4 linked regions of the Homo sapiens genome follow. The protein of the gene in region 1 interacts with the protein of each later gene in a pairwise test. Each region holds a gene or a part of one and is shown on either strand. Other genes may lie near its edges. The genes, in order: CLVS2, PHETA2, S100A7A and FBXW2.

The links.
Region 2: the proteins of CLVS2 (region 1) and PHETA2 interact in binary tests that used the Homo sapiens proteins (3 or more experiments, as listed by UniProt).
Region 3: the proteins of CLVS2 (region 1) and S100A7A interact in binary tests that used the Homo sapiens proteins (3 or more experiments, as listed by UniProt).
Region 4: the proteins of CLVS2 (region 1) and FBXW2 interact in binary tests that used the Homo sapiens proteins (3 or more experiments, as listed by UniProt).

What each region holds. Positions count from the first base shown.
Region 1 is NC_000006.12:122,992,261-122,999,246, reverse strand, and holds the start of CLVS2 (clavesin-2), read right to left. Parts: upstream 3,013-6,986; 5' UTR 2,501-3,012; intron 2,029-2,500; 5' UTR 1,470-2,028; coding exon 1,081-1,469; intron 1-1,080. UniProt on the Homo sapiens protein: Required for normal morphology of late endosomes and/or lysosomes in neurons. Binds phosphatidylinositol 3,5-bisphosphate (PtdIns(3,5)P2).
Region 2 is NC_000022.11:42,069,493-42,077,275, forward strand, and holds the start of PHETA2 (sesquipedalian-2), read left to right. Parts: upstream 1-4,755; 5' UTR 4,756-4,849; intron 4,850-6,078; 5' UTR 6,079-6,160; intron 6,161-6,566; exon of another isoform or gene 6,567-6,669; intron 6,670-7,783. Other genes in the region: NAGA (alpha-N-acetylgalactosaminidase precursor), read right to left, coding at 790-805. UniProt on the Homo sapiens protein: Plays a role in endocytic trafficking. Required for receptor recycling from endosomes, both to the trans-Golgi network and the plasma membrane.
Region 3 is NC_000001.11:153,412,479-153,419,542, forward strand, and holds the start of S100A7A (protein S100-A7A), read left to right. Parts: upstream 1-4,041; 5' UTR 4,042-4,085; intron 4,086-5,587; 5' UTR 5,588-5,604; coding exon 5,605-5,745; intron 5,746-6,666; coding exon 6,667-6,831; 3' UTR 6,832-7,064.
Region 4 is NC_000009.12:120,756,450-120,762,420, reverse strand, and holds the end of FBXW2 (F-box/WD repeat-containing protein 2), read left to right. Parts: 3' UTR 1-5,447; downstream 5,448-5,971. UniProt on the Homo sapiens protein: Substrate-recognition component of the SCF (SKP1-CUL1-F-box protein)-type E3 ubiquitin ligase complex.

The sequences.
Region 1 (6,986 bases):
TAACTGTAAATGTCTTGTACGATGGCTCCAGAGATGATTTAAACTAACCAGATGCATTGAAAGTCACCATTCACAGAACTAAAAATACACCAATGTTTTAACAAGCAGCTTCTTATGATTCATAGCTCTGGTAGCATTTTAAGTCCCATGAAATATATTTAACTTTGAACTTAATTGAAACTACCTTGCACAAGAGCCTTTTATAATTTCTTATATCTTTCAGTCTGAGAAAACAGTTCTGAAGGAGGACAGAGAAGTGTCATTGCCTGCATTTTTCTATAATAATGTAGATAAAAAGAATATTATTTCTTCTCTATTAAGTAGCACATGAGCTCAAAAAGTCCACCAACTGACACATCTGAATATTTTCCACTTCCTTCCAAAAGATGAAAAATCACATGAGACAGGAGACAGATTCTTTAGATTAGTGGCAGGTGTAGGACACATACACCAGTCAGTGTACATTTTCAGTGTCAGCAGGCATGCTCAGCGACAGAGGATGCAACTCTTCCTTTCACTGAAGGGACACAAATCATATTATTCCTTCTTCTACACATCACCAAACAGAGAACTTCCCAAGCAACAAAACTACTTGCTTTTGGTCGAACGCCAGGCTATGCTTAAAAGATAAAACGTCAGTACCAAAGAGAGGATGATGATGATGATGATGACAATGATGATGGGTCTAGTTTAAGAATTTTTTTAGGAAGAAGGAGGAAAAGTTGTCCCCATTTTCTTACTGGTTTATCCAGCCCAATAAACTTTTTCAGAAGGTGAAACATACAGAGAAGCTTTATTTACAAGTTAAGTGATTTAGATCTCTGTGCAATAACGTGGTTAAGGTAGCACCTTAAAGCTGCAGTAGAAAGTGGGTGTTAGTGAAGTAAGTTTTAAAAGTAAAAATACAAGCCCTCCTCCCTTCCCAGGGTGCCCACCAAAAACTCATCTCCTGGTTTGTTTCTCTTTTCTCCAAGCCAAATAAACAAAAATATCAAATCTACAAAACCATGACACTACTCGGGGTAAATTCTGGAAAATGGGAGAGTAAAAGGAGAATACAAGTTTGGATTTAGGATTTACCTGCTCTGATCCCAATTGGCAGCAAAAAGGACTAGAATCTTCCTGCCATAGTGGTCCAGATTGGCCAGGCCCCCAGGGAAGCCATCCTTCAGTGCCTGCTTGATGCCAGGGTCGGTGGCCTTAAAGCTTTTGAACATGTCCAGGTTCTGCTGCCGGTACTCAAAGTACTGCGCCAGGAGGCGGAAGGCCTCAAAGTGATGAAACTTCCTAGCCCGCAAGAAGCGTAAGATGAAGGCATCATCCGTGCGCAGAAAGCCAATGTCCGGCCTGGTGATGACCATATCCCTCACCTCCTGGATGTCCTGGTGCAGCGTGTCTGGGTTTTCATTGAGCTCCAGGCGAGCTTTCTCCAGGGTCTCAGGGGAGAGACCGGCTTGCAAATGAGTCATTGTTCTGCCTATCTCTGAGCTTTCCCTCAGAAGACCTTGTTGACTGTCCCAAAGCAAACCTGGTCCTTGCCACCACCAGACTCCAGCCCCCAGACCTCCTGCTGCCTGCTTCCTCTCCCCTACAGGAAATTAATAATCTTGGTGTCCAATCAAGTGCCCTGTTGCTCCTGCTTTCCCCCAGCAAAGCTGGGGGGGCCGGGGGGTGTAAACTTCTTCCTCTGCCCCCTAAAATACAACACCCTACTTTGGCTCCCTCTTTCCTTTCCTTTAAAGAGATGTGAACCCCTGAAGGGCTCCGCACTCCTCTTCTTGTCCTTTCTCTTTCCTAACAAATCACCCCTAATTCCACCTAGCACGGGTGTTTCTGATCTTGGTACTGTCCTCTTCTCTTCTCTTCCAAGATGTAACAAAAACAACCCCCACGCACATCTCAGCCCCTGCACTGTGAATGTTCCTGCGGTCCCTGCTGAAGGATACGCCTGCCAGGGGTGGCGATGGAAATTCTGATTAATAATAAGGTAGCTCTTCAGCGCTGAGCTCCAGGGCGGAGAGAGATCATCTTTGCCAGAAAGAAAAAGAGACAGAGAGAAAGAGGGGGGAGAAAGGAGATTATTTCTCCCTGTACTTATTCAAAGACGCTATTTTTAAAAGACAAATTTGTGTGATTTATTTAAGATTATTGTGATCCAATTAGGTGAAGACTCTGCAGATAGCGCACCTTCCCACCACCCCTCTGAGATACACCGTGATCTCATAAGGCACCAGCAGGGGTTCTGGTGGCGTTGGTACCAGCGTGGGCTCCCCCAACCCCACCCCCAACTTCTGCCTTCCTCTAGCCCTTCATTTCCACGGACTTGCCGCGGGGTTGGAGAAAAGGGGGGAGGGGGAGGGAGGGGACCGGGGATATCTCTGGGAATGCACATTTCAAAAACGAAGAGAAGGGGAGGACGTTGTGAAGAATAAAATAAAAATGTCCTTATCTTTTCTATAAAACCCCAAAGCAAGAAAGAAGAAAGAGCAGCCGCTCCTACCAGCAAACCCAGAGGCGGGGTCGCTAAGCAATGCGGCACTCCCTGGCATCCATCAGCCGCGGCTTCAGCAGCGGCGGCGGCGGCGACAGCGGCATCAACTCCTCTGGGCGGGATGGAAGGAGCAGAGAAGAGGGGTGGCGGCGGGGACCCGGGCCGAAGATGCGCTCGGGAGCAGCCGCGGCCACATCGTCCGCGGGCAGCCCGCAGCCTCTCCTAGCAGGAGGGGTGAGGATCGCAGGGCTAGGGCCACCGCTGTCCCAGGTTCTCGCCTGGCCCTGCCATTTTCGCCTTCGGGAGAGAAGGTGGGGAGGAGGACGCGAACGCCTGGATGGAGAAGGCCACTCGGGCGGCCACCGCCTTTGTGAGCCCTCCGGGAGCAGCCGGGGAGGTGGGCGCAGCGGGGCGGCTGCTGCGCGGCGCTGGCCTCTCCTGGGGCTCTCCCGAGCGGTCCGAGTCAGGGTTGCCCCACCGGGCTGCGGCGGCGGCTCCGGCTGCTGCTGCTGAAAGAGGACTCGGCTCAGCCCAACTCCTCTCTAATTATCCCAGCACAGATCTCGCTGCGACGTAAGCACTCACTCAGCTCGCGCGCGCGCTCCGCTCCTTTCCCTGCCTCGTTGGGGTAGGACGGCAATTTGGGTGGCATCGAAATATCCCGAGCCCTAAGTTTAGGCTGCTCTTCGTCCCCACTCCTCAGCAGGCTGCTGAGCGGGCGTCGCCGGGCCAGGCGGGGCAACCATGCTTTCCAGCCTCCCCACGCCCCTCTCTTCGCCCTTTGTGTGCAAGACCCCAGATCAGCCTGGAGAGTAGCTGTTGTAGACGGTAATTCACATTGACACGCATTTTCTCGTTCCTGTAGGAGGCAATTTTGATGTAGAAGGAGTACGGAAACATTCTGTACTTTTCGCATTTGTTGTAGACAGAGATATTTAATTTAGAAAACACCAGAGTGGTTCCAAGACAATGTACTGATGATTAAGCCTCCGGAGGAACTTATATGAATAGTTTTTCAACCAGTCTCCCTGCTAAATTTCTGTTGAAGAGGATGAAAATGAGCACTAGGGTAAATGATAATAAAAACATAATTCTCAAAGGAAGAAAAAAATAGGAACTTCACTCATATCTCATCATAAAGCAAATATTTCTGGAAACACATACCATCCTTCCTTCAGTTGTATGCATCTGTATATGAGAATCATTATAAATAAACAGAAGTCCTTGCGCTTAATATGACTATCTATGGATTTGAGGAAAAGGGATATTTTCTATTTTCAAAACACAGCACATATTACTGAGCGTGTTACTAAGAGCAACTTTTGACTTTATAAACTGTAGAATGGGGTCTTGAATTGAAGTTAATTCAATGCAACTAATATTTACTGAGTTCCACGAGGTGTGGGGCATTTTTCTGCATTCTGTGTATAGGAGGTGGTCTTGAAGATAAGCAAATTTTGTCATTTTCTTATCTTGACATTTCTTATCTTGTCATTTTCAATGTTGATGACTATGAGAACCCTCAAAATACAGGCACACTTGTTTTTGCTCTTCTCATGGCGATGGTGTTGATAAAAAGAAAGAAGGAAAAGGGTTGTATGGTAGAGCTAGAGCATTTATTAATTAAATTAATGCAAATTAATGTAGGAACCCGAATAAGACAATAAATTACACACACACACACACACACACACACAGTCATTATTGTCAAGGAATTTATGTTTTAAATGGGGAAGGCAGAAAATAAACCACTTAAGTGTGTGTATATGTGTGTTATATATATGCACTATATATAAGGTCCTTCTAGGATTTTAAGTGATTATGACTTTCTCAAGCATGCTGAATGCAATGTGAACTGTTAAATTTTTGGTTCTCATTTTAAAACATTTGAAAAAATCATTTTTTCTAATATTTTAGAGGTTGAAGAAAATTTATGTTTCGTATCAACTGTATGAAGAAGTTTTAGTCATCACCAACATGGAGAGACAATTCTCCCTGGATCCGTTGTGTTTCTACCTGTCTTATGACCAAGGCACTAATTGCCCTTTTTTCTAGACTGTCTTCTCAAGGGTATTTGTACAGTAAATAGTCTTGGAAGATATTGGAAGATAGAGATAGTACCTCCATCTGAAACAAAGCCTTGAAAGCTGTGATATCTCTCTCCTGACCAAAAGGTAGGCAAGCTTATTTGAATTCCCTAAACTCAGAGCTATTCTGCTGTAATGCCACCCATTGTTTATGCCAGTATCACTTGATCCTCTTTTCTTAGCTATCTGTGGGAATTAGAGCTCAGGGGACCAGTCAATGCAAGATATGCAGATGCTCATACTGCCCGCTATGCCTGAGTGACAAAATCCTTTATCTCGAAGCCAAGAGTTTTGCATCTTCCATCGGCATCCATGAAACTACAGCCAGCTAACTTGTTAGCCTGTAAGTGAAGTTAAAATTCAGATCTTTCACCTTGATGAAAAAACAGTTGTTTAATTTTGTTCTCTGAGATGGACATATTAGACTATATTTTTAAGGGAATTTATAAAATAAAATGTATTTTTTGGCCCAGCATATGTTATGACCAGTATTGAAGGTTGAAGGATGACATTTTTATTATTTATTATTTACCAATAACAGAATTGCTTCAAATAGATTTATTTTAACATATCTACATATGATAGAAATAGTCTCTATCACCCAGTAGGATTGTTGGAGCAGGTCAGTTAGGTATATATAAGATTTTTAAATCATATTTACAAAACTTTAGTGATTATACTGTTATTCTCTCTCTACTTATACATTTGAACTCAGTTCTGAAACCAAAATGAATACACGAAGCCATCTAAAATTAAACAAGGTGTTTATTCAGATGACATCAGAGCATTTGATTTTCATTCAATATTAATCTACCTTGCCAAATTAATGCAAAGTAATGTAGGAACTGGAATATGAGAATAAATTATCTAAACAAAAGTATTAATTAAAGCATTATTGGAAAAATAATTAAATCAAGGACTTCAGGTGTTTTCAAGTAACTAGAAAGAAAAGTTTGGTTTACTGCTATATTTAAAATGAGTAGAGTAAGTACTTTATGTTTTAAAACATTTTATTCCCTTTATTGTTAAATAAAATATATGCACAAAAAGGAGCACAAAATAAAGATGTACGGCTCAATTCTATCTTACAAGGGAAACACACATGTAAGTGTCCAACCAGGTTAAGAAACCAAGCATTGTCAGTAGCCAGAAAGCCCCCTCCCATTCCCCTCCTAACTACTGGCCTCTTTCCAACAAAGGAAGCCACACTGTCTTTATTTTAAAAGTAATCCTTGTTTGTTTTTTTTAAATTTTACCAACTAAATAACTACAATTTTGTTTTTCTGTTTCTGAACTTAAATGTAATCATTTATATGTAATGTTATGATTGACCTCTTTCATTCAATATTAAATTTGTGTGATTTGTCTTTGTCAGTGTTGTTGTATGTAGCAGCTCCCTCATATTCAGTAATGGTGCATAAAATTGCATTTCTTTTTTTCCTGAGACGGAGTCTCCCTCTGTCACCCAGGCTGGAGTGCAATGGGGTGATCCTGGCTCACTGCAACCTGCGCCTCCCAGGTTCAAGTGATTCTCCTGCCTCAGCCTCCTGAGTAGCTGGAATTACAGGCACACGCCACCACTCCTGGCTAATTTTTGTATTTTTCGTAGAGACAGGGTTTAACCATGTTGGTTAGGCTAGTTATGAACTCCTGACTTCATGATCTTCCAGCCTCGGCCTCCCAAAGTGCTGGGATTACAGGCATGAGCCACCGCACCCAGCCGTAGAATTTCATTTTTATACACCTACTACAATATGTGTGTCATTCTACTGTGGAGGGAAATTTGGGTTGTTTTCAGTTTGGAGCTCTTATGAACCATGATGTATGAAGATTCTGGCACATGTCTTTTGGTGCACATGGAGAGACCTAGGAATGAAAATTTCTGGGTCATATGTAATGTGCATCTCCAAATTTAGTAAATAATGCCAAACTGTTTTCCAAATGGTTGTTTCACCAACCCCCAGCAATATATGAGTGTTCTTACTGTGCCATGTTCTCAGAAATCTTATTATTGTCTATAATTTTAACTTTATCCATTCTGATTTTGAACAAGGGTATTGTATTATGGTTTTGGTATGCTTTCCCATCACTACTAATGAGGTTAAACTTTCACGTTTTTTGGGCCATTTGTACATTATTTGTGTGAAGTGTCATTTCAGAGATTTTGCTGATGTTTATAGTGGGGTGTTGATTGCTTTAATATTGAATTGTAGAGCTTCTTTATAGATTCTGAATATAAACCCTTTGTCAGCTGCACATGTTGTGAATATCTTCTCCATGTCCATGGCTTGTTTCTTTCACTCTCTTAGCCCTGTCTCTTAATCAACATAATTTTAAATTTTTAGGTAATTCAGTTTTTCTCCTATGAATAGTGCTTTTTAGGTCCTGCTTAGAATATCCCATAATTA
Region 2 (7,783 bases), on another chromosome or scaffold:
GTAATCCCAGCTACTTAGGAGGCTGAGCAGGAGACTTGCTTGAACCTGGGAGATGGAGGTTGCAGTGAGCCGAGATCGCGCCACTCTACTCCACTCCAGCCTGGGTGACAGAGTGAGACTCCGTCTCAAAAAAAAAAAAAAAAAAAAAGTGCGACAACGCACATTAGCCTACAGCTGGCCAAAATCATCTAACACAAAGCCTATTTTATAATAAATTGTTGAATATTTCATGCAATTTACTGAATACTGAAACACAGGTTGTATACGTACTGTGGTTTCTACTGAATGTGCGTCGCTTTCACACCACAGTAAAGTTGAAAAATCGTTAAGTCGGGACCATTGGCCAGACTCCAGGTCTCCTGAGCCCCAGTCCAGAGCTCTTTGCTCTCTACCACAGACCCTCAAGAGGCCTCAGAGAGGCTTAAGAAGTAAGCCAGCCAGGATGGGCACCCAATCAGCTCACCTAAGTGAGACCTTTCCCCCTCGGGCCTCAGTTTCCTTATCTGTAATATGGAGTTACTGTAGGGACTGTACAGGCGGTTCTCCGCACATGCTGATATCCATCAGTTAGGGCCTCTGTGCTTGAGGGAGAGGAAGTGAGAAAGGAAGGGCCCCTTTGAAGGAGAAATGATTCCCGTATGGGGAAGCATCTCCTCCCTTCCTGCCCAGCTCTAAGTAAAAGAGAGAGGAACCTGTCTCTCCACATACCCACATTAGGGAAGAAGGGCCAAAGCACTCCTTGTAGCACTCACCCCTACCCTTCCAAGCCACCCCAGCCGGTGTAGGTACCTGTCTTCAGCAGCATCGCTCTGGACTCAGCTTCCGAGGACCTGACCAGATCTGGTCTGCGTGTATCAGCTGTATGTGTTGGGCTCTGGAAGCTAAGAAACGTCTGAAAAGCACTGGGGTCACGGCTGCCTGGCTAGCTCGGCCGCCCTCAACCTTAGGCGTGGATCGTACACTCGGTCCCCAAGTTGCCCGCCCCATCCCCAGCCATCACTTCCCGGAGCTTCAGTTCTTCCTTCAGAAATACGAAACAACGTGTCTTGGATGTCAGACCTCACACCCTCTGCAGTGCTGGGAGTCCCGAGGGCCTACGGGCCGCCTTCGGCCCCGCCCGGGCTCAGAAAAAGGCAGCCACTGGCTTAAGGTCACCAAGAAAGAGCGGAGGGGCGGGGCTGCGGCCAGGCTCCGGACTTCCAGCCGGGTCCGGGTTCCCGCCCTGGGCTCCCCAAAACCGCAGAGCCCCCTCCCACCGCACTTATCCTACCGAAGCGTTCAGACCTGCCGCCGCTTCTGACTCGAATCCGGTAACCTGATAAGTCCGAAGCGTTCCAGTGAGGGCGGGGCCTCACGAAGGCAACCCTTCGCGCAACCTATCAGAATCCCCCCTAGCAACGCTGTGCCCCGCCCATATGGGTCCGGCCTCCCAGCCTCCCTAAGCCCTTCCCCACTGGGCTCCCGCCCTGCGTGCTAGCGAGGCAGGCATTGGCAGAACGGACTCGGGGCTGTCCTTCGTGGCCCGGACCCCGCGAGGCCTGTCCTTCCACCTCTGTGGGGACCAAGAGGGCAAGGATCGTGCCAGGCTCACCGTGGGCGCTCAGTAAGCGGCCGTGCAGAGGACGGTTGAGGGCTTTGTGCAGAGGAAATGAGAGACTGCTCTGAAGCAAGGCCCGCCTAGTGAGCTGCTAGGAAAATGGAAGTCTGGGATTAATCGTCTCTACAAGGAGGGTGCGTGGGAGGCACCAAAGCAGGCGGTCACAGCTCCCGCAAAGGCAGCCGGCTCTCCTTCCCCGCCTGACGCTCAGGGACTACTCGCACAGACTGGGCTACTTCCTTCTTCATTCATTCATCAAGTATTTATTGAGAAACTGCTAAGTGCCAAATGCTTTGTTCTGGGCATTGTAGGGGCAGAAAGGTGTGATATTTTCCCTTACTCATCCCAAAGGTCACAGCGGACACTCCTACAAATAAAATATAGGTTAGCAAGAGAAAAGCATAATAGATTGATTTACTCAATGTTTTATGTGACTTGAGAGCCTTCAGGAATGAAGACACAAATACTCAGGGAAATCTTTATTTTTATGTCTCGGTTTGATGAAGAATGGACAGCCCTGGCCGGGTCTGGTGGCTCATGCCTGTAATCCCAGCACTTTGGAAGGCTGAGGCAGGGGGATCGCTTGAGGCCAGACATTTAAGGACAGTCTGGGCAACATAGTGAGACCCTGTCTCTACAAAAAATTAAAAAGCCAGGCAGGTGCCTGTGGTCCCAGCTACTCGGGAGGCTGAGGTGGGAGGATTGCTTGAGTCCAGGAGGTCGAGGTTGCAGTGAGCTGTGATTGTGTCACTGTACTCCAGCCCGGGCAACAGAAAAAAAAAAAAAGGAATAAGGAATGGACAACTGTGTATAAACGCGATTAGACAAAAGGGAATGATTTAATGTTAATAGCTGAGTGTGGAAACCCAGCAATGTCTGTTCAGATTCGGATTCTTCTTGTTCTCTCTGTGTGGCATTCCCTCCTGCTGGGAGGAGGGCAGGACCCCTTCTGGAATGAGAGTCTTATGACCTAGTATCAGGCAAGGTAGATCAGAGAATTCCTTTATGGCCAGGCCCGACACAGAAAGGTGGGGGATGTTTCCAGTAATATTTGTAGTTACTTTTTTTTCTTTTTTTTTTTCTTTTGAGACAGAGTCTCCCTCTGTCACCAGGCTGGAGTGCAGTGGCGCGATCTCTGCTCACTGCAACCTCCGCCGCCCAGGTTCAAGCGATTCTCCTGCCTCAGCCTCCCAAGTAGTTGGGACTACAGGCGCACGCCACCATGCCCAGCTAATTTTTGTATTTTTAGTAGAGATGGGGTTTCACCATGTTGGCCAGGATGGTCTTGATCTCTTGACCTCGTGATCCGCCCACCTCAGCCTCCCAAAGTGCTGGGATTACAGGCATGAGCCACTGTGCCCAGCCAATATTTGTAGTTGCTATAACTCACCTTAGGGAGGAGGATTTTTAGTTTCTATGGCCTGCCTTGCAGGAGAAAAACAGGAGAAAGAAGGGGGGCAGGAGAAGGTCAGAGAGATACTTTGCTTCTGAGGCTCTTCCAGTGTCCTTTGGTTCAAAGTACTCAGCATGCCCAAGTGCCATATTTTTAGGCATCGCTTTCTGAGCCCCAACAGCACCTTCACTCAGATGGCCACTGGGTGTCTCAAACATAACCCAGACCAAGCACCGGCCACTTTCCACATCTCAGATAATGACAACTCTCCTAGGTGCTCAAGCCAAAACTGTGCAGTCCTGCCTGCTCTTTCCCTCACTCCCCACATCCAACTCCTCAGCAAATCCTGTGTTCTCTACCTTCAACAGCCATTCTAATTCTGGCTGCCTCTCCCTCCCCGCTCTTGCCGCGTTTGTGACATCTCGCCTGGATAGTGGCAGCAGGCTCCTCACTGGTCTCCAGCCTCCACTGACATTGATTCTCACCACAGAAGCCAGAGTATGCCTTGAAATCGCTCAGGTCCCTCCTCACAGCCCTGTCTAGAGTAACAGCCCTCCCAGATTTACAGAGCCCCATCCCACCCCTTCTACCCCCACCTCCTACTGTCTGCCCCTCCCCAGGCCTCCCAGCCTCACTGGCCTTCTTGCAGGTCCTCAAGCACAACAGGCCTGAGGGCCACTGCGCTGACTGTTCCCTCTGCCTGGAATTGGCATGGCTGGCTCCCTCATTTCCTTCAAGTATTTGTCCAATGTTACTTTCTCAGTGAGGCCTACCCTGACCACTCTATTTGCAATTGCAACCTCCCTACTCCCACAATTTCCCATCTCCCTTACCCTCCTCTGTTTTTCCATGCCACTTATTATCTTCTAACACATTTATTATGGTGTACAGTATTAACTGAATAAAATTTAGTAGGGGAGACAGGCAATAAACAAGAAAATAAAAGCATGAGCATAGGAAAGTTTACTCTAGCAGTGAGTGCTCTGATGGAAATAACACCCCAGGGATGGGACAGAGACTGCAGGGCAGGTTGCTTTACAATGGTCCCAGAGGAGACCACTGAGCAGAGACTCAAATCTGTGTCCAGAGGCGTCCTGAGGAGTGGAGCTGCGGTTGGGGGTGGGAAGGAAGGCCATTCTAGGCTGCAGGAACTGCAAGGGCAAAGGCTCTGAGGCGGGAGCCAGGTTCATGGGCAGATGTTTGAGGACACCTCCGGCTTCCAGGGCCTTCCAGAAGTTCCAGTCTCTTGGGTTTGGTTGTGCATTCCTGCGACCTTCACCGCAGGCCTCCTCCTCCACCCACTAGTGCAGAGCCTGGGGGCTGCCGGTGGGTTTCAGGCCAGGGAAGCAGAAATGGGTAATTTCCAGAGGCAGAAATCAGCCGACCCCGGTGGCCCGGTGGGTGGCCAACAAAGCTTGGCTGGCCCTCGCGGGCTGTGTAGGAGCCCACCCTAGGGAGGTACCCAGAGACATCCCTGGTTTGGCTCTGCCGGGAAAGTGGGCCGAGCAGGGAGAGGGGGACCAGAGAGGAAGAGATGGACAGAGTTTTCCGGACGGTGGGCTGGGTCCGAGGCCCGCGGACCGTCCGAGGGGGGCCTCTGGGTTCGAGGCCGCCCGCACCGACCAGTGCTGTGGCTCGGGCAGTTCACCGCCCTCTCGGGCCTCAGTTTCCCGCCCTGGCAGACCTCGAGGCGGCCTCGGAGATCCCGGGCCTGGCGAATACTGGGCGGGGAGGGGCGTTAACTCCAGCCTCCCGGGCGGGGTCTCCCGGCTCCCGCGGCCACGTTGCAGCCCAGGCGGAGGCGCGGGATCTCGAGCTGGGATCGCCCTCTTGGGCTTCGGTGCGATCGGCGGCGGGAGGTGAGAGTGGGCCCGGCGGGCTCCGGGAGGAGGTGGCCCCAGGGAAGGTGTGGCCGCGGGGAAGTGGCGGCGAACAGCCCCGACGCGAGGACGGGGAAACCAAGGCGGCAGCCAGGGAGACCCTGACCGAGGTGACCTCTGTTTAGGGCGACAACCGGGTTGGGGCTCCCCGCAGTGGCCACTGGCCCGGCGGTCCCGCACCCCCAGCCCGCCTCTCCTCCAACAAAAGAATCCAGGAAGACGGTGGGGCGGGCGGGAGGCCCGGTGTGCGGTGGCCTGGCCCCCCTACTGGTGGAGAGGAGGGAGCGCCCTTCCCCAGACGCGGGGGAGGGGAGGGGTCATGGCCCCACGGGCTGCCCACCCCCTCCCTGTGCCCCAGTGCTGGGCCCAGGACCCCCAGTGAGGCCACTCCTCTGGCAAACATCTGTGATCTCTTCCCCCTTCCTGGGCCCCCCCTACTGGAATGGCGTCTCTCCCCATCCAGGGGCCTGGCTTGTTTTTCTCCATAACCCTTAGCATTACCGGTCCTTATGTTATCTCTTATTTCACTAATTATTCTTTCATTAATTTATTAGTATTTATTTTGTTTGCCTACAGTGTGTTTCCCCCTGTGGGAATGTAGGCTCCAGGAGGGCGGGAGACTTCGATTTGTCCACTGATGTATCCCCATTAATTCAACAGATCCCTCCTGAGGGCCTCTCTGAGCCCTGCACGGTGCTGGGTATTGGGGTTCTCCTGGGAACTTAGCTGAGCCCCACCCTAGACATTCTGGGGCTGGGAACAGTGCTGTAAACACATATGACATCGTCGTGGGATGAAGGAAACAAACCAGAAATGGGGGGGTCTACTGGTCAGGTGACCTTAGGTCAGGCCACCTTGGTGGTCAGGGCCACCTTAGATGATATGGTGATCATGGAAGGCCTCCCAGATTAGGTGACTTCAGTTAAAGCCAGGAAGTGCTAGAAGGGAAAAGCTAGGAACCATGAGGGCATGTGTAGCTCTGACCTGGACTCAGGCAGGGAGCTGGGGTCTGAAGAGTAAAGGTCAAGACAAGGGGACCCATCCCCTTAAGCTGCTCAGGGGTTCCTGGCTGGGTGGATGGGTGGGGGGATTCTCAGGGGTCAGGGAAGGCTTCCCGGTGGAGGCTGTGGTTTCATTAGGCCTCGAAGGTGGAGTAGGAGTTCTCATTCTTTGGGATAAGCTGACTGGGCTTGAGAATTGTTTTGCAGGTTCCCTGGGAACCAGGTGGTCGAAGGGCTGAGCTGTGTGGCCAGACAAGAGGTCCCTGCCCTCCCCCAGTGAGCCCTGCTGGTAAGTGGGTACAGTGTGAGGGATTTGGGAGACGAAGCTCTGCGTCTCATTGGCCATGTAACCTTGGGCAAGTTCCCCTCACTGCGCTGGGCCTTGGTTTTCCATGAGTAAGGACAGCTGGACTAAGTGCCGTTCATGATGCTGGGGGCACCCACATTCAATGGCTGTGGTTAGCTCTTCTCAGCTGTACCCTGGGTTTGTGCCACACTCTTGTGTACAGAGTAGCTCCCCATCTGGCCCTGAAGGCTGCAGATTGAGACAGAAAAATAATGTTTTATCTGAGGAATTGGAGCCCCTTTAAATAATCAGGCCCAGACATACTGAAACGCAACAGCTGTCAAGTCTTACTCCTCCCTTGAGCTAAAGAATTATCTCTTTTTCTTTTTTTTTCTTTTCTTTTCTTCATGTCAGATCGGTAATGTGCCTACATGGTAACAAGGTTCGAGGGTGGCACAGCTCACACATGCATGTGAACACCCAATCATCACGCTCATGAACTACAAAAGGATCAAGAATTACCTCTTGAAGCCACTTGCTATGTGGCTCTAGAGTGACACCAAGTAGCCATAAAATGCTGTACACTGGACACCCTATAGTTCATACCCTATAGTTCAACAATGTATAGCCAATCACTAATCAATGTTATTTCTTTTTTTTTTTTTGAGATGGAGTTTCTCTCTTGTCACCCAGGTGGAGTGCAATGGCACAATCTTGGCTCACTGCAACCTCTGCCTCCTGGGATCAAGCAATTCTCCTGCCTCAGCCTCCCGAGTAGCTGGGATTACAGGCACCCACCACCGTGCCTGGCTAATTTTTGTATTTAGAGACGGGGTTTCACCATGTTGGCCAGGCTGGTCTCCAACTCCTGAGCTCAGGTGATCCACCCACCTCGGCCTCCCAAAGTGCTGGGATTACAGATGTGAGCCACCGCACCCCACCAATCAATGTTATTTCTATAAACCAAGGAGAATTCCTGCCAAACAACTTTGTCATCCTTGCCCCCTTCTGCCTATAAAAACCTGTAGGAAAGGCCCAACGCAGCACACCCCACGGCAACTTAGAAGTTTGTTCTGGGCAGTTATCCTTACTCTCGCTCAAGTAAACTCTTTAAAGTTATATTTGTGCCTCAGCTTCTGCCTGTAGGTCAATAAGATTCAACAGCTATATGCAAATAAGAGGCCAGTAGAGGCCCAGGAGGGTCATGGAAACCCTGGAAGCTTGGCCTCAGAGTTGGAGTTGAGAGGACCCCAGATGAGGGGATAGTTTAAGCACAGTGGTTTCGATGGGTCTGGGGTCCATTTCAGCTCAGCTGGGGCCTGTTTCTTTGGATTTTAGAAAGCCGTGCCCAGGTCCTGCCATGCCTCCTGTCTGATGCAATCTCGTTATTCTTTTCTCGAAGTCCGCCAGTGTCCAGTTTTTTTTGCATGATCCTCACGACATCCCTTTGAGAGAAAAGGAAGGAAAGACGAGCCCACTTCTCAGGAGACTTTAGGGACCTTAGGGACACAGCAAGCGAGTAGGAGTCCCAGGGCTGGGGTCCAGGTTGCCTCTGGAGCCGGTGCTGTTCCCCAGGAGGGCACGGAACCACCTCCCTCTCTGATCTGCTGCCATCTCTCTTGCCTC
Region 3 (7,064 bases), on another chromosome or scaffold:
CAACAGATGCTGGGGAGGATGTGGAGAAATAGGAACAGTTTTACACTGTTGGTGGGACTGTAAACTAGTTCAACCATTGTGGAAGACAGTGTGGCGATTCCTCAAGGATCTAGAACTAGAAATACCATTATATGACCCAGCCATCATATTACTGGGTATATACCCAAGGGATTATAAATCATGCTGCTATAAAGACACATGCACACGTATGTTTATTGCAGCACTATTCACAATAGCAAAGACTTGGAACCAACCCAAATGTCCATCAATGATAGACTGGATTAAGAAAATGTGGCACATATACACCATGGAATACTATGCAGCCATAAAAAAGGATGAGTTCATGTCCTTTGTAGGGACACGGATGAAGCTGGAAACCATCATTCTCAGCAGACTATCGCAAGGATAGAAAACCAAACATCACATGTTCTCACTCATAGGTGGGAATTGAACAATGAGAACACCTGGACACAAGAAGGGGAACATCACACATCAGGGCCTGTCGTGAGGTTGGGGCAGCGGGGAGAGATAGCATTAGGAGATATACCTAATGTAAATGACGAGTTAATGGGTGCAGCACACCAACATGGCACATGTATACATATGTAACAAGACTGCACGCTGTGCACATGTACCCTAGAACTGAAAGTATAATAATAATTTTTGTAAAAACGTTAATTATCTAATACAGATTATATAATTAATTTAATAAAGAACCTCAATACAAAAAAAGAAATTTATATGTATTCTCTATGGTCAGGCACAAATTTATGAATGCACGTGTATATAAATAAATTTAAGTGTGTCCTTCAAATATTTTGTATCAGGAATCAGCAAATTATGGTCTTAAAGCCAAATCCAGCTGGCCAACCAATTCTGGAGATTAGTGTTTACTAGAAACAGCTGTCTTCATCCACGGGGCCCTTATGTCCAGGGCTGCTTCTGGGCTGTGGCAGCATCTGCCCGCCCTGCTCTGCACCATTACTGGTGTTTTGTTATCTGACGACTCTGTTGAGTTCCTGGGCAGACTCTGCCAGAAACTGCCAAGTGATATAAATTTGTCAGTTTTCATTAATTTATTTCAATGTTTGCTTTGTATAATTCAATATTATGTTCTTGTGTATATAAGGATAAGACTATTGCCAGGTGCAGTGGCTCACAACTGTAATCCCAGCACTTTGGGAGGCCGAGATGAGTGGATCGCTTGAGGTCAGGAGTTCGAGACCAGCCCGGCCAACATGATGAAACCCCATTTCTATTAAAAATACAAAAATTAGCTGGATATAGTGGCAGGCGCCTATAATCCCAGCTACTCAGAAGGCCGAGGCAGGAGAATCGCTTGAACCTAGGAGGAGGAGATTGCAGCGAGCCAAGATGACACCACTGCACTCTAACCTGGGCTGCAAGAGCAAAAGTGTGTCTCATAAAAAAGAAAAAACAAGAAAGAAAAAAAAGATAAGACTATTGCATCTTGGTGACTTGCACACTAATCAATAGGAAATATTCTTCTTTTTCATTTAATCCCTTTTCTTAGAATTCTTTGTTGTCTTGTATTAATATTGTTGTCCCTGATTCCTTTTGTATTGCATTTCTTCTGTTCCTTTTTTTTATAAACAGTGATGATATGTAACTCAAAATGAATCATAGACCTACATGCAAAACATAATATTACAAAACTCCTAGATGGTAGCATAAGAGGAAATTTGATCATCTTGGTTTTGGTGATGACTTTTTAGATGCAACACCAAGGCACAATCCATGAAAGAAATAATTCATAAGCTGGACTTCTTTAAAATTTAACATTTCTGCTTTGTGAAAGATATTGTCAAGAGAATGAAAAGATAAGCCACAGACTGGGAGAAAATATTTACAAAAGACATATCAGACTTTGTATGTTATCCAAAACGTACAAAGAACTCTTAAAACTCAGAGATAAGAACACAAACCAAACAATTAGAAAATGGGCCAAAGACCTTAACAGACATCTCATCAAAGAAGATACAGAAGGTGACAAATAAGCATATCAGCTGATGCTCCACATCATATGTCCTCAAGGAAATGCAAATTAAAACAACAATGAGATACCAGTACACACTTATGAGAATGCCCAAAATCTGGAACACTGACAGCACCAAATGCTAAAGAAGGATGTGGAGCAACAGGAACTCTCATTCATTGATGGCAGGAACACAAAATAGTACAGCCACTTGGGAAGACAGTTTGGTGCTTTCTTAAAAAACTAAACATACTCTTACCATAGGATCCAGAAATCACACTCTTCGGGATTTACCCAAAAGAACTGAAAGCTTATGTCCACACAAAAACCTGCATACACATGTATATGAACACATTGCACAGTGGTGAAGTCCGGGCTTTTAATGCAGCCATCCTAAATAACACGCATTGTACCCACTAAGAAATGTCTCCTCCTTCACCCACCACCTGACCTCCTGCTCTTCACTGTCTCCAGTGTCTATGATTCTACTCTCTCTCTACCTCCATCTGTATGCATGATGTACCTCCCACTTACACATGAGGGTGCACAGTGTTTGACTTTCTTTTTCTGAGTAATTTCACTTAAGATAATAGCCTCCAGTTCCATCCATGTTGCTGCAAAAGTCATCATTTCATTCTTTTTATGGTTGAGTAGTATTCGTCTGTGTGTGTGTGTATGTGTGCGTTTGTGTGTGTGTTTGTGTGTGTGTGCGTGTGTGTGTGTGTGTGTATCTTTTGCCGCTAAAAGTAATATTGCCGTCATATGGGAAACTGGGAGAGGGAGAAACAGGTCCCCCTGGTTACATAAGAACTGACAGAGAAGGAAGTTGAAGAAAGATGATGGGTGGAGAAAATAGGTCCCACCTAGGGAGACATCACATCAGCTCTATGGAGCCCCAGAGTGCTTAAAGGGCTGGCACTAAATGAACCAGGACCTCTTGCGGCCTACAAGGAACATTGTAAGGGGGTAGCAGAAAAAGTCCATTTCAGTGATTCATCATCTCCTTTTCCTCACCATGCCCCAGGGACTCCTGTGCCTTCCCAACCCTCTTGCCCCTACCTGGTTCAGGCTTTCCACAGCAGGTTAGGGCACATTATAGCCAAGGGCACAACTCCCAACTCCTACACAGGCTGTTTTGCATAGGAGGAGGAAAAACACTGAAGACTTTCTGGGAAGTTAGTGCCATGGGGCAGGAAAGAACTTTTCCCACTCCCTACCTCCAGGCTCATTCCATGGGGCGGGGGGGGCGGGGGTCACTCCACCACTCAACCTAGATAGTGAGGCCCCTGACCCCAGTCCCCCCACCTAAATCCAGGGCTTCTGTGAGGGGCTGACCAATGGTTAGCAATGAAGTAATCCTGCTTCCCTCCCTGGACTTTGAGTTCCCATAGGGCAGACCCTGATGCAACCCAAGACCTATAGCACAGGGGATAAGAGTAAGGATTTGATTCAGGCTTTTCTTTGTTCGTGTGATGATTTGTTGTGTTTACTAGCTGAGTAAACTTGGGAACATCTCAACTTCTCCTTTCCTAAAATAGAGATTGCAGCACCTGCTTCTTAAGACTATGAGGGGAGGGTTGAGGAGGATGCAAGAGCAGCAGGTGTCTTGATGTCTAGACATTAAAACGCTCAGTAAGCGGTGGGGGTCATAGAACAGGCTGTCACAACAAATGTGTGGAAGTACTGGGGGAGGGAATAAACAAGACCATGCTGCCTTTGGGAGTCTGAAACTCCATTCTCTTTGGGTCCAGAGGCCCAGTGCTCTTTTCTCCCATTTCCTGACCTGTTACTACACATGTACCGCTGCCTTACCCTCAAATCAAGATTGAGCCAGAGAAGGCCCCAGGTGAGGTCTCTGGGGTGGGGTGGGACCTGGTGACCTGGGACCCTGGCCAGAAATCCTGAGCACAGCCTCCTGGGTGTGTCCCACACACCTGATATGGGACAAGCCTCCAAGAAACAGATGACAGAGGTGGCCCCAGGCCTCCCAACCCGTGGGAAGAGCCAGGCTGAGCCTTATAAAGGACTGCTCTTTGTCCAAACACACACATCTCACTCATCCTTCTACTCGTGACACTTCCCAGTTCTGGTAAGTCTCACCTGCCTCTTTGCATTTTCTAGAAGTGCCCAGTGCCCAGCCTGCCATGCTGCCTGTAGGAAGGGAAAGGGCTGTGGACAAAGTCTCAGAAGCCTGGGTCTAGGCCAGCTCTGCCATTAGCTGGGCTGTGTGACCTTCACTTGACCCCAAAAGCCCACGTCTGTACAACCAGGTGGCTGAACCAGACCTGTCCATTGCTCCTTTGGGATCTCCTGAGACAACTCCTGTGGAAATGTCCCCAGTGGGACCTGAGCACAGGACCCTCCCTTTCCTTCCTGTCTTCTTCCTCCCTGGATTCATTCTCCTTTTGGGATCCCAGTTGCTGAATCCCCTCCCCAGCTCTGCCCCCACAGAGGGAGGAGGGATAAGGATCCCCTGTGAATGCTTTGGAGGCTCTCCAAACCCCCAGGCCTTGGACCTGTAAATTCTCAGTCAATCTCTGGGCACAGGGCTTGGCCTCTGGCCTTGGCCTTGGCCTCAGATTCAGAAAGCTTTGAGTGGCTTCTCTTAGTCAGTTGCTGGCACGGAGCTTTCTCCTGCGTTGAGAGGTGTTGGGGGTTTATTGTCAGATGCCCACATGCGTTAGCCAAGGTCCTTTTCTGGTTCTTTGGAAAGTGTAGAAATGAGAGCTGCACTGTCTTATTTTTCAGGCTTGGGGTGCAGGGCAGCCCAGGCTGGCTACTGGCTGGAAGATCTGCTTTGGAAAGTCAGACATTTTTATTTAAACAGGGTCAACCCTTGGTGATTCAGAGGGTGCAGATATTTCCCAAGAGCAGACATGAAGCGACTCCCACCTCACTCCCACCCCATCCAGCAGCTTAAGAACCAGGGAGTTATTTCTGTTCCTTGTAACAGAGGCAATTCTTGTTTCTCATTCCCAAGGGAATGTAGGAAGGGCCCCCTGTCCTCGGGAGAGGGCTGTGTTTCCTGCTCACACTCATGTCCACGCTCACATGTGCACCTGGAGCCTGCACGCACTGTGTCATGCAGGGCTTGCACTTGAGTCAAGGTGGGGCCCACGGTGTCTGGTTCCTGAAGCAGCCGAGGAGGGTCAGACACCAGATCACCAAGGCCATTGTCCTGCCCCCGTGACTCTCACCCCGACTGTGAAGCTGGAGGAGATGGATTTGGTGCTGTTTCAAGAGTGGGGTCCGCCATGTGCTGGTTGAGGCTGGGGGGTCCCAGCTTAGTTCTTCTATGTGTTGCTGGCCTCCGACTCTCCCTGCTTCTCCTTCTCTGAAGCACTGTCCACAGCTGGACTTCTGCCATCCACCTGCATCTCTTCTTGGCCCTGGCCAGGATGGGCCGGGTCTCAGACTTGGTCCTACCCTCTCATTTTTGAACAACTTATCCCATCACATTTAAAAAAATCAAGTTCCTTCTGCTCCATCTTAGGGCTGTTTTTACTCTGTCCTCAGCCCTCCTTCTAACACCCCCACATAGAGACCTTAATTCAAACTAAGGTAAGAAATGATTGTCTTTATTTCCTGAAGGCTTTTTGAAAGCAAAGATGAGCAACACTCAAGCTGAGAGGTCCATAATAGGCATGATCGACATGTTTCACAAATACACCGGACGTGATGGCAAGATTGAGAAGCCAAGCCTGCTGACGATGATGAAGGAGAACTTCCCCAATTTCCTCAGTGCCTGTGTGAGTTGGGGTCTAGCTTCTCAATGTTGGTTGGACCCTGGCATGGCTGAGGATACATTTTGCTATGTGGCCTTGGACAGGTCACCCTCATCCTCTGATTAAAAAGTTTCCCATTTGCAAATAGGGCTTTATTGCTTGGATCATATGTGAATCTAAGGATGGTAGGCGAAAAAGTATGAAAATGGGAAAGAGTTATACAGATATAAAGGAGGTTATTAGATGGTCAGCAAAGTGTGCAGCTTGAGGACAGTGCACAGTCCCCTCCCAGCGCTCACTGACCCTCTCTCTGTGAGACTGAAACTCACATGCTCAGGTCCTGCTTCCCAAAGGCCCCACATCAACATCCCTGAGATTACTGGGAAAGCACTAGAAGTTCCATTGCTAGTAGAAATCAATAGCCCTCTTTGCAATAAAGAAAACTCATTGGCAAATCTGAAAAAACCTGTGGGCTACTAGGTACCAAAGGGTCTAGATGACCAAGAGTAGGGAACCCAGAAGATGAGTTTGGTGGAAAAGGAGAAGAAAGGAGAGGAGGTCAGAGAAAGAAGAGAACAAAGCATGAGGGCCAATTTTGAGGCCCTGGGGTAGAACTAAGGTAGGCAGTGCCCTTAAATGCTGGGAACAGGCAAGATTGAGGCTGGGGCAGGGGACTGCTCTCCCCAAGGTCACTTAACAGAGTGCCTCGGGACAGGACCTGCCTCCCATCCTGAGGTGTGAGACAAAAAGTCTCCTTAGAGAACTCCAGGGATAACACTCACGTCCTCACCCCAACTTCACCCACTCACCCTGTGCTCTCAGCCCCACGACCATGCCTGTGCAGATCTAGGTACTTGTCTGTATCTCTGCCTCCTCCTCTCCCCTCCCAGCCCAAAACTTGTTTGTGATTGAATTTTTCTATTTTGTATGTTTTTCTCTTCACAGGACAAAAAGGGCATACATTACCTCGCCACTGTCTTTGAGAAAAAGGACAAGAATGAGGATAAGAAGATTGATTTTTCTGAGTTTCTGTCCTTGCTGGGAGACATAGCCGCAGACTACCACAAGCAGAGCCATGGAGCGGCGCCCTGTTCTGGGGGAAGCCAGTGATCCAGCCCCACCAAGGGGCCTCCAGAGACCCCAGGAACAATAAGTGTCTCCTCCCACCAGACACTTGCCTTATTTCTTCTTCTCTTTGGTGACCTACATTGTCAAAACTACCAATTCCAGGTTAACTTTGTTGGAGAATTTCCCCCACCCCCATCCAGTGGGTCACCCAGGAGTAATGTCCCTCCAGCAACGTTCCCCCTATGGCCTCCAGCAGAGCTGATCTGCCTCTCACA
Region 4 (5,971 bases), on another chromosome or scaffold:
TATTTTGCAGAAGCCCCAGGAGACTTTGGGCAATGATGATGGTAAATGACTTTTTACTTTATTATTATTTTTTTTTTTTTGAGACAGAGTTTCGCTCTTACTGCGCAGGCTGGAGTGCAATGGCACGATCTTGGCTCACTGCAACCTCCGCCTCCTGGGTTCAAGTGATTCTCCTGCCTCAGCCTCCTAAGTAGCTGGGATTACAAGCATCTGCCATGACACCCAACTAATTTTTATATTTTTAGTAGAGACAGGGTTCCACCATGTTGGCCAGGCTGGTCTTGAACTCCTGACCTCAGGTCATCCACCTGCCTTGGCCTCCCAAAGTGCTGGGATTACAGGCGTGAGCCACCACGCCTGGCCGAGTTTTTACTTTTTATCGAGCCTGAACAGATAACTATTACTGATCTAATGACCATCCCCACCCTACCTCACTTTCAGATCTATCCAATAGCTTCAAAGGGCAAGTAATTATAATCATTTGTGGGAAAAGTTTTATTAAAAAGTGACAAACTTGAAGCTGTATATAGTATGTTCTATTTCAGTTTTTAGTGGTGAATACAGAAGTCATCAAGGTGGTACTTGGTGCCGCTGGAATTTTTTTTTTTTCCTAGGCAGTCTTGCTCTGTCATACAGGCTGGAGTACAGTGGCATCATCATGCAGCTGGATTTTGACAGCAGAACTTCAGGCAGTAATTGGAGTCCTAATGTCAGTTCTTCCTTATGGAGGCCTTTATTTGGCCTGAGATTTTATTCAACTACTTTATAGATGCTGGGTTTATTCATACTATCGCCAGTTTTTATAAAAATGGAAAACTAGCTCATCCTTTTTGCAAAAGAAAGCAAAGTGGGGAGTCAGAATGAGAAGTGGATAGGGGATAACTAAAACTATTCTTTACTCTCCTTTCATTGCCTTTGAGAGCTAGCTCTTGCACACACTGACTTTGGCTTCCTTAGCGCATAGGTAAGGGAATTGCCTTTCCCTCTTTTGTGAATATTCTCATTTCTGAAAAATTCTAAGTCATGAGAAGATAAGCCCTATCCTTTCTTACAAGGATTGGATTTCTTGGGTGACACTGTGGTGTGGTGGAAGCCAGCGGCTTCTTTCAGGTTCATAAAGGCCATCATAACAACTTCAGGCTTCATGGTGTGGACAGGGATCCAGGAGAGCTGAGTGGATGTGTGAAGTTTCTGATAGATTCTGTCATCATTCCAAAGGAATGTAGTTTCCTCCAGCTCAATCATTTGAAGTAATACACATTGCCAAATCTGACTGTAACCTGACATTTTAGACCTATTGGAGAAATAGGAAGAAAGCCCCTCCAGTGGAAGGACTGGACTTGGAAGAAGTTCTGCAGGAAGGTGCATGCAATTGGATAGCTGTTCATGAGTGAAACGTGGGGAACATTGCTATGAAATTGTAAGGTTTGCACTTCATTTTTCGTAGTTTAAAAATTGCTCTGTTCTGGCTGTTGAAAACACTTGGTGTGAGGTTTGAATGAGGATTATATAATCATTCTAGTATTCATAGGAAAATGATTACTGCTCTCTATTTGTAAAACAAAAGAAATAACTTTCGGAAACAGTATTTTAGACATGAGGAAATTGTTTGTATTAGGCATTTTGATCTAACAGAATCAGCTAAGGATAGTGGATCCTGGCTTTACACATTTCTTTGACCAAACCCAGCTGGCAACTTGAAGTTGTTACTGTGTGGCTTCCAGATTGCCTAGAGGTGAATCCTACCAACATCACTGTTTTTTTTGTTTTGTTTTGTTTTTTTTGTATGTTTTTGAGACAGAGTCTTGCTCTATCCCCAGGCTGGAGTGCAGTGGCGTGATCTCGGCTTACTGCAACCTCAGCCTCCTGGGTTCAAGCGATTCTCCTGCCTCAGCCTCCTGAGTAGCTGAGACTACAGGCGCGTGCCACCACGCCCAGCTATTTTTGTATTTTTAGTAGAGACGAGGTTTCACTATGTTGGCCAGGATGGTCTTGATTTCTTGACCTCGTGTTCTGCCCGCCTCTACCTCCCAAAGTGCCGGGATTACAGGCGTGAGCTGCTGTGCCCGGCCCCAGCATCACTTTTATAGCTTTCTGTGCCTCTTCCTCTGGGCCTTGGTGTATGAAGCCACTTGCCTTTCTCTGTTGGGAAGCGAGCAGAATCAGATTGCTACTCATGATGCAGTCCGGGCAGGGCATACTGTCACCTTTGCCTGTGGACACAGTTGTCAGGATAGGGGAGAAGCCCTTTAGGTCCGTCTTCTTGACACAGCCCTCCTACCTGGTTACGCTGGTGCTTTCGCTTGGTTTAGACAACCAAGACACTTGAGAATTATGCTGTCCTCAGAATGTCTGATGAAAAGAACAGATTCACTTTTTTGACACAATGCCCATTAGCCATCTTTGGCAGTGTTTCTGATCAAAGGTTCCCCATGCCTGCTCTAGGAAAGTAAACTTTTTTCAGAATAAATCCTCAAATGGATTACTGAGTAGTCTTTGCACCATTCCCATCAGCCTAATCAGACTGAATGGTCACGCTCAGTGCAAAAAGCTGTTTTGCTGTTAGGATGTTTCAGTGTTTCTTGTCTTTCCTGGAACAGTTCAGTTGTTTAAATTTAGTAATTCAATCCTGACCAGTGTAAACCCACTTAATTATTGCAGCCTAAAGAATTCAGCTACTTCTACTCTTCATAAATGTGCCCAAGTAAATATGTGTTTTTAATATTCAACCCTGGAAAATTAGTAATTCAGATGATAAAAGCTCATGTTTTGGTGTCTTTGTACTCAGATTGTGAACAGGCATATTTCACTGATTTAGACTTAGTATACTTGATGAGAATGCTCAGGTTGAAGAGATAGTTCTGTCAGCAATCCAACATCTATAGCAATGTGGAAAAAGTAATCAACTCATATTTCACGAATTTGATGTATGTTGTGATTTAGAGGGCATGAGATAAAGTTTATATTTGAACTGTGTGGGGTAGGGGGAAGAAGAGGTTGCTTAAGCAAATAGTGGGGTGATTGTGGAACAAGATGTCTCTAAGATGAGAAGTTATTTTCTTGCATCATAGAAGCACTCTTTTTACCCGTGAGTGATTGTGTTAACTATAAATCATTTATATCTGTACATTAAAGCAGATTCCCTCAATTAGGCAAATTTGGTTAGCCAAGCCCAAGTTATTGTTTGTACTTGAAAGTAATAAAGCTGCATTTCCTTAAAAATATATTCTGTAGTTAAGACTTTGTCTTGCTTTCCCCCCAACCACTTCAGACATTTTATCCAACCAATGCAGGGACTTTTCAAAAGTCAGTGTGTTTTTGAAAATAGAACAACCCCTTGAGTGATCTGAGGTGGCTCTGTTTTTTTACTGTTTCTGCATCTTCTAGAAGGTAAACTCAACAATATAACCATTTCTGAAGGTGATCCAAAAAGCAAAACAATAAAGGTAAAACACAAGGAAATAATTTTGGTGAATTTCATGAATAGTTGCAAATGAAGGGATGGGGTGGGTAAAAGTCCCATTTTGCTTCCAGACCTTGGAATAGTCTTCCTCTCTTTTGCCCAAGGATGTGTCTATCCAGCACATCTTTGCATGAGTTCTTTCTTACTAACTTAAACTTACGGGGCTTCTTGTCATTTGAGTACCACGGCCCTGCACCTTTGATCCCCTGACAGCATCATTAAGGGCAGATTGTCATTCCTGTTTTACAGATGAGAAAGCTGTGGCTTGGTAAAGTGATTCATTGCCTAGAGGAGTTATAGTAAGTGGTGAGGCTGAAGCCCTGATTTTCAGCCCCCACACACCTGGATTTTTTCCATGTTTTCATGTTTGTCTGTTCTTTCTGTATTTCAAGTCTCTTCAAATCCCGACTGCTGCCTTCTGCCTTCACCACTTGTGTGCACTGTTCAACCTGTCTTATGCTTTGCTTCCAGGGAGTCTCCCCAACCACTTCTTTGAGCACTTACTTGCTCTTGTTCAATCTTGGTAACTCTCCGTTACCATCAGGGCACATCTGGATTCCTTAACATCATGGAGCCCTAGCTAATTTCTTCGAGCAAACAGTTCTTGCTCCTCTATTTATTTCCACCCTTGCGCTTTGGGTGTTAATCTCCCATCCTCGTGGAAAGTTCTTGATGTTCCTTTCCACCAGTCCTAGGGCCAGGCTTTAATCCCATTGATCTCCCACTATCTTTAAAGCCTCTGCTGACCACCATACCCCACTCCAGCCTCACTGAGCATTTTTGTGTAAGGTTAGTGGTGCAGTTCATTTAGCAATAAATACTGTTGTACCTTTTGCAGTAGACAACTATTAACTTTCATCCTTGATTCTCAGTTTTTTCCAAAATACAAGTGAATACCTGGTTTCCCCAGCAACATTGTAAGATTGAGAGTAGGAATTCATTGAGATTTTAATGAATTCCATGGATTGTCTTAAGAGCTATCTAAACTTGGAAGAAAAATAACTTCCAGAGCATCTAAAATTGAAAATAAAAGATCAGAAGCAAATGAAAGATCAATTCCACACAGCTTTTCCTCTCTTAGACGTCCCTCTTCTGCCATATCCTGTAAACATCTGAAGTGTTCTGAGTACATTTGGAGAGAATATTTAATGATCACACTGTGATTAGACATGAGTAGTCCCTGCCAGTGGGATGTTCCTGTCCTTTGCATTTTAACCACATGTTCTGTGCTCTCTGTGGTAAAGATAATCTAACAGTAATAAAAACTTATGGAGAAAATTACCCAGAGCTCCTTTATCATTACGATTTTTAATACTCTCTTCTAATCCTTATGCACATGTGTATGGATTTATGTACTGCAAATCATTGTTTTGTAATACATTCTCAAAAATGTGCTTTAGGTTTTTACAACTACCATAATATTTTGTAATTTTCCTTCATTACTGTAATTTGCTAAACCATTTCTGTTTTGGTAGATAATTAGGTAGTTTCCAGTTCTGCTTTTTAGAAGATACTACAGAGAACTTCTTTGTGCATATTTCCTTAGAACAAGTTCCAGTAGAAGACTTACTCGCAAAAGCAGTGGAATTTTTTCTTAGTATTTTCTGTTACAGGTACAGAAGAGTGCATACAACACACAGTTTTGTCGAATAGTTATGAAGTGAACACTTGTCTAACCACTGCCCGAGTCAAGAAAGAACATTTCTAAACATGTTTGCCAATTTAATAGATATAAAGGAAGTATCTCAAGGTTGCTTTAACTGACATTTCTTTAACACATGACAACATTTTTATGGGGGAGGGGACTAGAGAGAAAATGACATATTTTTATGTGTGCTTATTTGTATCTCTTGAATTCTGTCTGCATCTTTTACCCATTACACTTTCAAATACTTGTGAAATCATTGGTCGAGATGAATTATGGCTATAAATAAAATTTCACTAATCTAATTATCACTGATTTAGAAATAATAGTTCAACCCAAGACATGCGTTGAAGTGTTCTTTCATTACATAAAAAGGATTTGTGTCAAGTAAACCTATACACAATCTGTTTACATATTACTGGTTTATATGGTACATCACAAATTATGCAAAAAGTAGATCTAGTAAGACCCAGTACCAAAGATTAGAGCTAGTCAACAATACTATTTAAAGGAAAATATGGACAGTCATGAGTCAAAATGTTTTTTCCCCAAATTAACCATAATATATATTGAAGTTTAAAATGAGGAATTCATTTTGGAAAGCAGCCAAGCACAGATTCTAAGAACATAGTAATCCTGTGTTTTATTTTTACTCAATGCAGACTCGAGGGTGTCAGGTGTGCTTTTATATCTCCAGCTTCTAAGTTCAGAGAGGAGATTTTCTATCTGAAACTTTTTATAGGATAGCAAACATTCCTGAGTTTCTTAGTTCAGCAGGTTTAGCCATGTAAGGCAGCTCTTGGGCTAGTTGATCTTTCAGGCTTTAAGGGCACAAGGCTTAAACTCTATTTGACAGAAGAAGA